2 linked regions of the Homo sapiens genome follow. The protein of the gene in region 1 interacts with the protein of each later gene in a pairwise test. Each region holds a gene or a part of one and is shown on either strand. Other genes may lie near its edges.

The links.
Region 2: the proteins of MAPK11 (region 1) and SETDB1 interact in binary tests that used the Homo sapiens proteins (3 or more experiments, as listed by UniProt).

What each region holds. Positions count from the first base shown.
Region 1 is NC_000022.11:50,262,226-50,267,976, reverse strand, and holds the end of MAPK11 (mitogen-activated protein kinase 11), read left to right. Parts: intron 1-27; coding exon 28-157; intron 158-349; coding exon 350-408; intron 409-494; coding exon 495-606; intron 607-690; coding exon 691-720; intron 721-802; coding exon 803-850; intron 851-928; coding exon 929-1,043; intron 1,044-1,365; coding exon 1,366-1,437; intron 1,438-1,671; coding exon 1,672-1,751; intron 1,752-2,316; coding exon 2,317-2,395; intron 2,396-2,482; coding exon 2,483-2,656; intron 2,657-2,949; coding exon 2,950-3,029; 3' UTR 3,030-4,264; downstream 4,265-5,751. UniProt on the Homo sapiens protein: Serine/threonine kinase which acts as an essential component of the MAP kinase signal transduction pathway.
Region 2 is NC_000001.11:150,931,892-150,936,974, forward strand, and holds part of SETDB1 (histone-lysine N-methyltransferase SETDB1), read left to right. Parts: intron 1-5,083. UniProt on the Homo sapiens protein: Histone methyltransferase that specifically trimethylates 'Lys-9' of histone H3. H3 'Lys-9' trimethylation represents a specific tag for epigenetic transcriptional repression by recruiting HP1 (CBX1, CBX3 and/or CBX5) proteins to methylated histones.

The sequences.
Region 1 (5,751 bases):
GCGCCGCCTCACTCGCCCGCCTTCCAGTTCGGCCTACGACGCCCGGCTGCGCCAGAAGGTGGCGGTGAAGAAGCTGTCGCGCCCCTTCCAGTCGCTGATCCACGCGCGCAGAACGTACCGGGAGCTGCGGCTGCTCAAGCACCTGAAGCACGAGAACGTGAGCCGGGGGAGGGCCGTGGGGGGAGGGCGCGTGCGGGGGCGGGGCCGCGGCGCAGCCAATAGGCGGGCGAGCCCTGGCGATGGGGGCGGGGACACAGGGGGCGCGGCCTGGCACTGGGGGCGTGGCCCGGGGGGAGCTGAACGACAGCCGGGGGTTCGTCGCCCGGCCCTGACGCCCCCCGCCACCTAGGTCATCGGGCTTCTGGACGTCTTCACGCCGGCCACGTCCATCGAGGACTTCAGCGAAGTGTGAGCGGCGGGGCGGGCGAGGCAGCGGGGAGCGCGTTCGCGGTGGGGCGGTGGGGCCCTGTCCTGACCCCCTGACCCCGCCCCAGGTACTTGGTGACCACCCTGATGGGCGCCGACCTGAACAACATCGTCAAGTGCCAGGCGCTGAGCGACGAGCACGTTCAATTCCTGGTTTACCAGCTGCTGCGCGGGCTGAAGGTGGGGCGCCCTGGGCTTCGCGGGTCCTCTCGCAGGGGGGCGGGCGGGCCGGGCCCGGCGCTCACCACAATCCCCCTCCCGCAGTACATCCACTCGGCCGGGATCATCCACCGGGTAGGTGCGACCGCAGGGTGAGGGTCGGGTCCAGCAGGGCTCCGTCCCAGCCTCCTGTGCTCACGCTCCGCGTGACCTGCAGGACCTGAAGCCCAGCAACGTGGCTGTGAACGAGGACTGTGAGCTCAGGGTGAGGCCCGTGGGCAGGGGTGGGCAGGGCGGCGGCGGAGCCCGTGCGGAGCTTGAGAACACCACGTGGTCGCCCCAGATCCTGGATTTTGGGCTGGCGCGCCAGGCGGACGAGGAGATGACCGGCTATGTGGCCACGCGCTGGTACCGGGCACCTGAGATCATGCTCAACTGGATGCATTACAACCAAACAGGTGCAGGGGGAAGGCCTTGGGGGGACGAAGGCCAAGGGCCTCGTCTGGCCCTCGACTGGCTCTGCATGCCAGGTCTTAGGGGGCAGGCAAGGTCCCCAAGAATGTGGGACCCACATTCAAAAGTAGCCCTTCAGAGGCCGCTAGAGCATGATGGGTGCTGGCCTCCTCTGGCTGTGCAGCTATGGACCTCCCCCTGCCTAGGGGGGTTGGGTATGGCAGAGGAGGGGGTCTGCCCATCTTGGGGTCTGGATGTGACTGTGGGTCTCCTGGAGGAGGGACGTGGGGTGGGCACACTGATGGAGGTCCCCTCGCCCTCGCACAGTGGATATCTGGTCCGTGGGCTGCATCATGGCTGAGCTGCTCCAGGGCAAGGCCCTCTTCCCGGGAAGCGACTGTATCCTTGGCCCAGGTTGGGGAGCAGGGTCAAACAGGGCCCCTCCTGTAGGGTAGGGACCAGCGCTGGCCCCTTCTGGCGGGTCTTGCCTCCTCTGCCCCCCATGCTATGCTACTTTGGGCTGGCCATCCTCACCTATAGGAGAGCGGGCTCTGGGCAGCGCCCCAAAGTTTTGGGTCTGGGGGCCCAGGAGGGGTCTGTGGCTGGCCCGTGGGTGTTTCCTGAGTGACACAGACATTGACCAGCTGAAGCGCATCATGGAAGTGGTGGGCACACCCAGCCCTGAGGTTCTGGCAAAAATCTCCTCAGAACACGTGAGTTGGTGCCCGCCAGCCAGCAGCTCCCTCTCCTGGCTGAGCCCCCAGGCTCTCTGGGGGAGAGGGTGGTGTGGAAATGCGGGGACCATATGGGGAACATGGGATGTGGTGGGATAGAGCCTAGGGCAGGTGCCCAATCCCTGCAGGGGAAACAGGAGAAGGGGGAAGACATTCCTGACACCAGGGACAGTGAGTGCAAAGCCATGACCCCAGCAAGCAGTGCCTGGCCAGGGCAGTGGGGGTGGGCTGGGGGCCCAGCAAGCAGTGCCTGGCCAGGGCAGTGGGGGTGGGCTGGGGGACCCCAGCAAGCAGTGCCTGGCCAGGGCAGTGGGGGTGGGCTGGGTGGAGGGAGTGTACTTGGACCCAGCTCCTGCAGGCATTAGGGGCCAACTGAGGAGCTAGAACCACCAGATCCTATATGGAGGGGGTCACTGGTCTGCCTGTGCCCTTGTCCTGGCCTGTTGGAGTGAATGAGTCTGGGGGCTTGCCAAGAGAAGCCCCAGTTTGGGGCCAGGGAGGCAGAGAGTGAGCAGCCTCCCCAGGTGTTCTTGTGTGCCCCCAGGCCCGGACATATATCCAGTCCCTGCCCCCCATGCCCCAGAAGGACCTGAGCAGCATCTTCCGTGGAGCCAACCCCCTGGGTGAGGACTGCCCTGGGCTAGACTGGGCTCCATATCTGGCCCTGGATGTACAGCTGACCCCCCTCCCCACCACTGGCTTCCCTGCAGCCATAGACCTCCTTGGAAGGATGCTGGTGCTGGACAGTGACCAGAGGGTCAGTGCAGCTGAGGCACTGGCCCACGCCTACTTCAGCCAGTACCACGACCCCGAGGATGAGCCAGAGGCCGAGCCATATGATGAGAGCGTTGAGGCCAAGGAGCGCACGCTGGAGGAGTGGAAGGGTGAGCATGGCAGTGGCTGGGGGTGGGTCCAGGGGCCTGCGGGCTCCATTTCCCCAGAGGCAGGAAATGCCCCAGTTCCTCTCCAGACTGGTCAGGTGTGGAAGGGCGTTCAGGTGTCCAGCACAGGCTGGGAGCGGGGCGGAGGAGTGACACAGGGCAGGTTCTGGCTCCCAGACTGTGCTGAGGCTGCTGTCACAGGGTGGTGGGCCTGGGCTGGGTGGCAGGTGCCAGACAAGCAGGTGAGGGGCCGGGCTGTGGGAGGCACAAGCTCACCCTTTCCCTTCACCTCCTAGAGCTCACTTACCAGGAAGTCCTCAGCTTCAAGCCCCCAGAGCCACCGAAGCCACCTGGCAGCCTGGAGATTGAGCAGTGAGGTGCTGCCCAGCAGCCCCTGAGAGCCTGTGGAGGGGCTTGGGCCTGCACCCTTCCACAGCTGGCCTGGTTTCCTCGAGAGGCACCTCCCACACTCCTATGGTCACAGACTTCTGGCCTAGGACCCCTCGCCTTCAGGAGAATCTACACGCATGTATGCATGCACAAACATGTGTGTACATGTGCTTGCCATGTGTAGGAGTCTGGGCACAAGTGTCCCTGGGCCTACCTTGGTCCTCCTGTCCTCTTCTGGCTACTGCACTCTCCACTGGGACCTGACTGTGGGGTCCTAGATGCCAAAGGGGTTCCCCTGCGGAGTTCCCCTGTCTGTCCCAGGCCGACCCAAGGGAGTGTCAGCCTTGGGCTCTCTTCTGTCCCAGGGCTTTCTGGAGGACGCGCTGGGGCCGGGACCCCGGGAGACTCAAAGGGAGAGGTCTCAGTGGTTAGAGCTGCTCAGCCTGGAGGTAGGGGGCTGTCTTGGTCACTGCTGAGACCCACAGGTCTAAGAGGAGAGGCAGAGCCAGTGTGCCACCAGGCTGGGCAGGGACAACCACCAGGTGTCAAATGAGAAAAGCTGCCTGGAGTCTTGTGTTCACCCGTGGGTGTGTGTGGGCACGTGTGGATGAGCGTGCACTCCCCGTGTTCATATGTCAGGGCACATGTGATGTGGTGCGTGTGAATCTGTGGGCGCCCAAGGCCAGCAGCCATATCTGGCAAGAAGCTGGAGCCGGGGTGGGTGTGCTGTTGCCTTCCCTCTCCTCGGTTCCTGATGCCTTGAGGGGTGTTTCAGACTGGCGGCTCCAGTGGGCCAAAGGGCAACCACATGAGCATGGGCAGGGGCTTTCTCCTTGGATGTGGGACCCACAGCAGCTTCCTGAGGCTGGGGGTGGGTGGGTGGGTGGTTTGGCCTTGAGGACGCTAGGGCAGGCAGCACACCTGGATGTGGACTTGGACTCGGACACTTCTGCCCTGCACCCTGGCCCGCTCTCTACCTCTGCCCACCGTTGTGGCCCTGCAGCCGGAGATCTGAGGTGCTCTGGTCTGTGGGTCAGTCCTCTTTCCTTGTCCCAGGATGGAGCTGATCCAGTAACCTCGGAGACGGGACCCTGCCCAGAGCTGAGTTGGGGGTGTGGCTCTGCCCTGGAAAGGGGGTGACCTCTTGCCTCGAGGGGCCCAGGGAAGCCTGGGTGTCAAGTGCCTGCACCAGGGGTGCACAATAAAGGGGGTTCTCTCTCACTTGGCTTGTATCCAAAGGCTACTCCAGGCCCGGGTGCCCCCACCATCCCTGCTGCTGGGCGTGGGGGGAGTGTCTGGGTCATCCTGCATCACTCACCTCCAGCTGGCCAGATCCCTCAGGCCCCCAGTCAGACCAGCGGCCATCTTCTGGCACCCTCCCTGCTCCCTGGAGGGTCTGAGAGCCCAGGGGGACCAGGGGAAGACATGGCTGATGGGCAGACTTTGAGGGCACAGGGTGTGACAGCCACCCAGATGGTGACCCCAGCTGCCCTGTGGGGATGTACTGGGCAGGCTTGGCTTTGGGCCAAGATCCAGACACCACCCCCGCCTACCCCTCAGTGTTCAGGGAAGCTGGCTGGGGAGAAGTTGGGTGTCTCAAGGAGCAAGGGTCTGCCCATCCCTGGGTGGGGGCTGGGCAGGGTAGGGAAAATAGCTTTCCTTTCCCTCCTGGTGAAGGAAAAAGAGGCCACTTTAACCCAGGGAATGTGCACGCTGGTCCCGTTCCCACTACGCGCTGCAGCTTATGTGTGGGGGAGGGTCCAGGCCATTTGGGGTCAGGCAGTGTCTCTAAGGACCAGGGACAGTCTGTGCCCTTGCTTGGGTCTTGGGTAGGGGTGGAAACCGTCTGGGAGTTGGGGGCCTCCTGGGGCCTGGTCAGTGTAGTGGTCAATCCCGGGGGAAGTCCAGTGTTGGCGGTTGGGGGTGGGAGGAGAATGGTGACACAGCCCCACCTCAGAAGCCTGGTCCGTGCAGGGCCTGCTGGACCCCTGAGCCCCACCACGGGGAGTAAGGGGGACAGCGTGGAAGCTGGGCTTCCTGGAAGAGGTGGATGGAGTGCCACAGGCAGCCCAGGGCACAAAGGGTATGGGCCACAGGCAGCTGTGGTTTGGGTGGCCCTGGGCTGCCCCGCTCACTGGTCACGAGCTGGTGAATGCCGTGGAGCACGGCCCAAGCCCAGGTGTAAAGCTACTACCACCCTTGAGCGGCTGAGCTGCTGATTCATGGCAGGAGGGCGGGGCAGAAGGCCCTAGGGATCCTGTTACCCACCAGCCCAGTGGGCTCCTGGGGTGCCCCAACATCCCTTCTGAGATCCAGGTTCCTGGGCTGGTGAAGGGGTGTCAGGGTGGGGCTTTGCCCTCAGGAGCATCTGGTCCAGGATGGGGCCAGACCTATGGGAGGACAATGCCCACACAGAGGGGTCAGGCGGAGGGCCCCAGCAGGTCCCCATCCCTGCTGGAGAGAGTGCAGCCACTCTCAGCCTGGGTTTTGCAGGACAGGACAGGCAGGGGTGGGATGGGCAGAGACACCAGTACTTGCAATGCTTGGAGCAGGCACCCCACAGATGGGGGGAGCAGGGGGAGGAGCTGGGGGTCCAAAAGGGCCCACGGGGACCTATGGGACTGAGAGGCCCGGGGTCAGTGGCCACAGGAGTGGGGTTGGGGATGCAGCCTGAGGAGTTTGGGGGACAGACCCCTCCGTGTAGAAAG
Region 2 (5,083 bases), on another chromosome or scaffold:
GCCTAATTGGATTTTGGATTTTGTCAGCTTTTTCTGTATCATTCTCCTATGTTCCTTTTGTCTTTTATCATATTAAGAATGTATTACAGTAGTTGTTTTTTTAGATGTTAAACCAACCTTGCATTCCTGGAGTAAACCAGCCTTGGTCTTGATGTATAATTCTTTTTATATGTTGCTGGATTGGATTTGCTGATTTAAAAAAAAAAGATCTTGGCTGGATGCTGTGACTCATGCCTGAAATCCCAGCACCTTGGGAGGCCGAGTTGGGCAGATTGCTTGAGCCCAGGAGTTCAAGACTAGCCTGGGCAACATGGTGAAACCCCTTCTCTAATTTTTTTTTTTTTAAAAAAAAAGAAAGAAAAAAATTTTTACATCTGTTTCATGAGGGCTATTGGTTTATAGTTCTGTTGTGGTGTCCTTGTTTGGCTTTGGTAGCAGGGTAATATAGGCCTTGTAAATGAGTTGAGAAGTGTTCCCTCCTCTGAGTTTGTATGGAATGATATTTCTTCCTAAAAAGTTTGATAAATTCAGTGCTGAGGCCATTTAGGCTTGGACTTTTCTTTGTGGATTTTTAAAATCTTTTATTTTGGAATAATTTTAGATTTATAGAAAAATTGAAAAAGTAATAGAGTTCCTATATATCCCTCATCTAGTACATATGTCAAAACTAAGAAGCAAACACTGGTATATTACTTTTATATAAACTTCAGGCTTTATTCAGCTTCTGGACTTTTTCTGTTCCATGATCTAATCCAGGATATCACATTAAATATATTTCCAGTGTGATGTTTATTTTCTTCCTTTTACTTACTGGGTTTGATTTGTTCTTCTTTTTCTAGCCTCTCAAAGTGGAAGCTTACAGGATTGATTTTAGACCTTTCTTCCTTTCTAATATAAGCTCTAAAGCTATTTATTTCCCCGTAAGCATTGCTTTGCTGCATCTCATAAATTTTTTTCCATACAGTGTCACTCTCAGGATATCATACTTTTTTTATGTTGTGTTTTCAGCTTCATTAAACTTGGCATCATTTTTAATTTTCCTTGTGGTTGTTTGATTTCTAAATATTTGGGGTTTTTTTGATATCTTTCTGTTGTTAATTTTTAATTAATTTTATTGTGTTCAGAGAATATACTTTGTATAATTTTAGTCTTTTTGAATGAATGAATGAATGAATGAATTGATTGATTGACAAGGTCTCACTCTGTTCCCCAGGCTGGAGTGTGATAGCATGATCATAGTTCACTGCAGCCTCAACCTCCTGGGCTCAAGTGATCCTCCCACGTCAGCCTCCTGAGTAGCTGGAACTAAAAGTACATGCCGCCACGCCCAGCTAACTTTTTTTTTTGTAGTAGAGATAAGGTCTCACTATGTTGCCCAGGCTGGTCTCGAACTCCTGAGCTCAGGCAATCCTCCTGCCTTGGCCTCCCAAGGTGCTGGGATTATAGGCCTTAGCTACCATGCCTGGCCTATTTTGTCTTTTTTTTTTTTTTTTTGAGACAGTCTTGCTCCATTGCCCTGGCTGAAGTGCAGTGGCATGATCTCACTGCAACTTCTGCTCACTGCAACCTTTGCCTCCTGGGTTCAAGCAATTCTCCTGTCTCAGCTTCCTGAGTAGCTGGGACCACAGGCACGCGCCATCACACCCAGCTAATTTTTGTACTTTTAGTAGAGACAGGATTTCTCTGTGTTGGCCAGTCTTGTCTTAAACTTCTGACCTTAGGTGATCTGTCCACCTAAGCCTCTCAAAGTGCTAGAATTACAGGCGTGAGCCACTGTGCCTAGCCCTATTTCTTCTTTGTTGCCTTCTTAAAGTCAAACAAACATTTCAGAAAACCACTGTCATTCTTCTGATTTTTCTTTTTCTTTTTCTTTTTCTTTTTCTTTTTCTTTTTTTTTTTTTTTTTTTTGAGATGGAGTTTTCGCTCTTGTTGTCTAGGCTGGAGTGCAATGGCAGGATCTCTGCTCACTGCAACCTCCGCCTCTTGGGTTCAAGCGATTCTCCTGCCTCAGCCTCCTAAGTAGCTGGGATTACAGGCATGCACCACCATGCCTGGCTAATTTTGTATTTTTAGTAGAGACAGGGTTTCTCCATGTTGGTCAGATTGATCTCAAGCTCCCAACCTCAGGTGATCCACCTGCTTCGGCTTCCCAAAGTGCTAGGATTACAGGAGTGAGCCACCACACCCGGCCCCTGATTTTTCTTTTTTTTAGCTTTCATAAAAGGGGTTGCATCTGTACCTAATCATAATCTATTACAAATTAATACTGACTTAATTCTGGTAAAAATACAGCCATTTTGGCTGGGCGCGGTGGCTGACGCCTGTAATCCCAGCACTTTGGGAGGCCGAGACGGGCAGATCACGAGGTCAGGAGATCGAAACCATCCCGGCTAACACGGTGAAACCCCGTCTCTACTAAAAATACAAAAAAATTAGCTGGGCGTAGTGGCGGGCACCTGTAGTCCCAGCTACTTGGGAGGCTGAGGCAGGAGAATGGCGTGAACCTGGGAGGCGGAGCTTGCAGTGAGCCAAGATCGCACCGCTGCACTCCAGCCTGGGCGACAGAGCGAGACTCCATCTCAAAAAATATATATATATACACAGCCACTTTGCACCAGCATACTTCTACTTTCACTCTCTTCCTGTGTGATACTATTGTCAAATATATTATAGCTACATGTTTAAAGCCAATAATCTAGTGTTATAATTACTGCTTTAAGCAGTCTCATGTTTAAAGAAGGTAAGGGAAGAAAAGAAAAATATGTATTTACCCAGATATTTATCACTTCTGTTGCTCTTCATTCCTTCCTGTGGATCTGAGTTATCATCCAGTGTCATGTTTTTCCAGCCAGACGGTTTCCTTTAATATTTCTTGCAGTACAGTTCTGCTGACAGTGGATTCCCTCAATCTTCGTTTACCCAGGATATAGAATTTTTTTTTTTTTTTGTGACAGAGCTTTATTCTTGTTGCCCAGGCTGGAGTGCAGTGGTGAGATCTCAGCTCACTGCATCCTCCACCTTCCAGGTTCAAGCAATTCTCCTGCCTCAGCCTCCCAAGTAGTTGGGACTACAGGTGTGCACCACCACGCCCGGCTAATTTTGTCTTTTTAGTAGAGACAGGGTTTCGTCATGTAGTTCAGGCTGGTCTCAAACTCCTGGCCTCAGGTGATCCACACGCCTTGGCCTCCCAAAGTACTGGGATTACAGGCGTGAGCCACTGTGCCCGGCCCTACCTGGGATATAGAATTCTTGATTGACAGAGTTTTCTTTCAGTACTTCAAATACGCCATCCCTGTGCCCTCTGGCCTCTATTATTTTTGATGGAAAGTCAGAGGAAATTATTTTTGTATCATGTATATGAGTCAGTTTTGTCTTGCTGGTTTTAAGGTTTTCTTTTTGTCTTCTGGTGTTAGTTTGACTGGGATGTATCCAAGTTCTTTCTTAATCCTACTTGAGGTCCATTTAACTTCTTGGGTATGTAGATTCAAGTTTTTCACCAAATTTGGAAGTATTTCATCTGTTATTTCTTCATGGTTTTTTTTTTCTGTTCCCTTTTGTCTCTCCCTGCTTTCTGGGATTTCCATTACATATATGGTGGAATGCTTGACATTCATCTTTTCACAAGTCTCTGAAGCTTTGTTCATTTTTCTTCAATTTTCTCTCTGTGCTTTGGATTGGATAATTTCTCTATATGGGTATCTATATATTCTAGTTCATTGACTCCTGTTGTGACTCTGCCACTTAGCCCCTCTAATATGTATTTCATTTCAGTTTTTGCATTTTCAACTCTGGAATTTCTATTTGGTTCCTTATTTCATAGTTTCAGTTTCTCTTGAGATTCTCTTGTTGATTAAGTATTAGTATATTTTCATTTAACCTTTTAACTTAATTTCCTATCGTTCTTTGAGCATATTTATAAATCCAGTATCTGGGATCACTGAGAGTCAGTTTTATTGACAGGGTTTTTTGTCTTGAGTGTAGGTCACACTTTCATGTTTCTTTGCATGTCTCTTATCTTTTTGTTGAATATTGACTTTTAGATAATCTAGCAACTCTGAGTTTTAATTTATTTTCCTGAGAGTTCCATATCCTAGTTATTCTTTTCTTTTTTTTGAGACGGAGTCTCGCTCTGTCGCCCAGGCTGGAGTGCAATGGCGCAATCTCGGCTCACTGCAAGCTCCACTTCCCGGTTTCACACCATTCTCCTGCCTCAGCCTCCCGAGTAGCTGGGACTACAGGTGCCCGCCACCATGCCTGGCTAATTTTTTTCTATTTTTTTAGTAGAGACAGGGTTTCACCATGTTAGCCAGGATGGTCTCGATCTCCTGACCTCGTAATCTGCCCGTCTCGGCCTCCCAAAGTGCTGGGATTACAGGCGTGAGCCACCCTGTAGGCCTCTGTTCAGTTTTTTTATTTTAACTTTTAATTTTTTAGCTTGGCTTCCAAGTATTGACTTTTTTATTTCTATTTTTTGGAATAGTTTAGCTAGTGAGGCGAATGCATTCAGAGTTACATTTAGTTCTGACGTCTCCCTTGGCTTTGACTTCTTCAACATTGTGTTGATGCATGATGATTAGCTTATTTGCTTTTTGCAGCATGGTATTCCATTGTATGAATATGCCACAGTTTATCAGTTTTCCTGATTGTGGACATTGATTTACATTTTTTGAGATTACAGATAACACTACTGCAAATATTCTTGTACATGTCTCCTGATGCACATGTGCAGGAGTCTTTTTAGTGTATATACTGTAAGAGAGTCACTAGTTCTTAGGATATAGAAACCTCAACTTTATTTGATATATATTTTTTTAGACAGTATCTCACTCTGTAACCCAGGCTGGAGCACAGTAGTGCTATCATAGCTCACTTCGACTTCAGCCTCCCAAGTAGCTGAGACTACAGGCAAGTGCCACCACGCCTGCCTGATTTAAAAAAAAAAAAATTTGTAGGTTGCTCACAGTGGCTCACACCTGTAATCTCAGCACTTTGGGAGGCCGAGGCGGGTGGATCGCCTGAGGTCAGGAGTTCGAGACCAGCCTGGCCAGTATGGCGAAATCCCATCTCTACTAAAAATACAAAA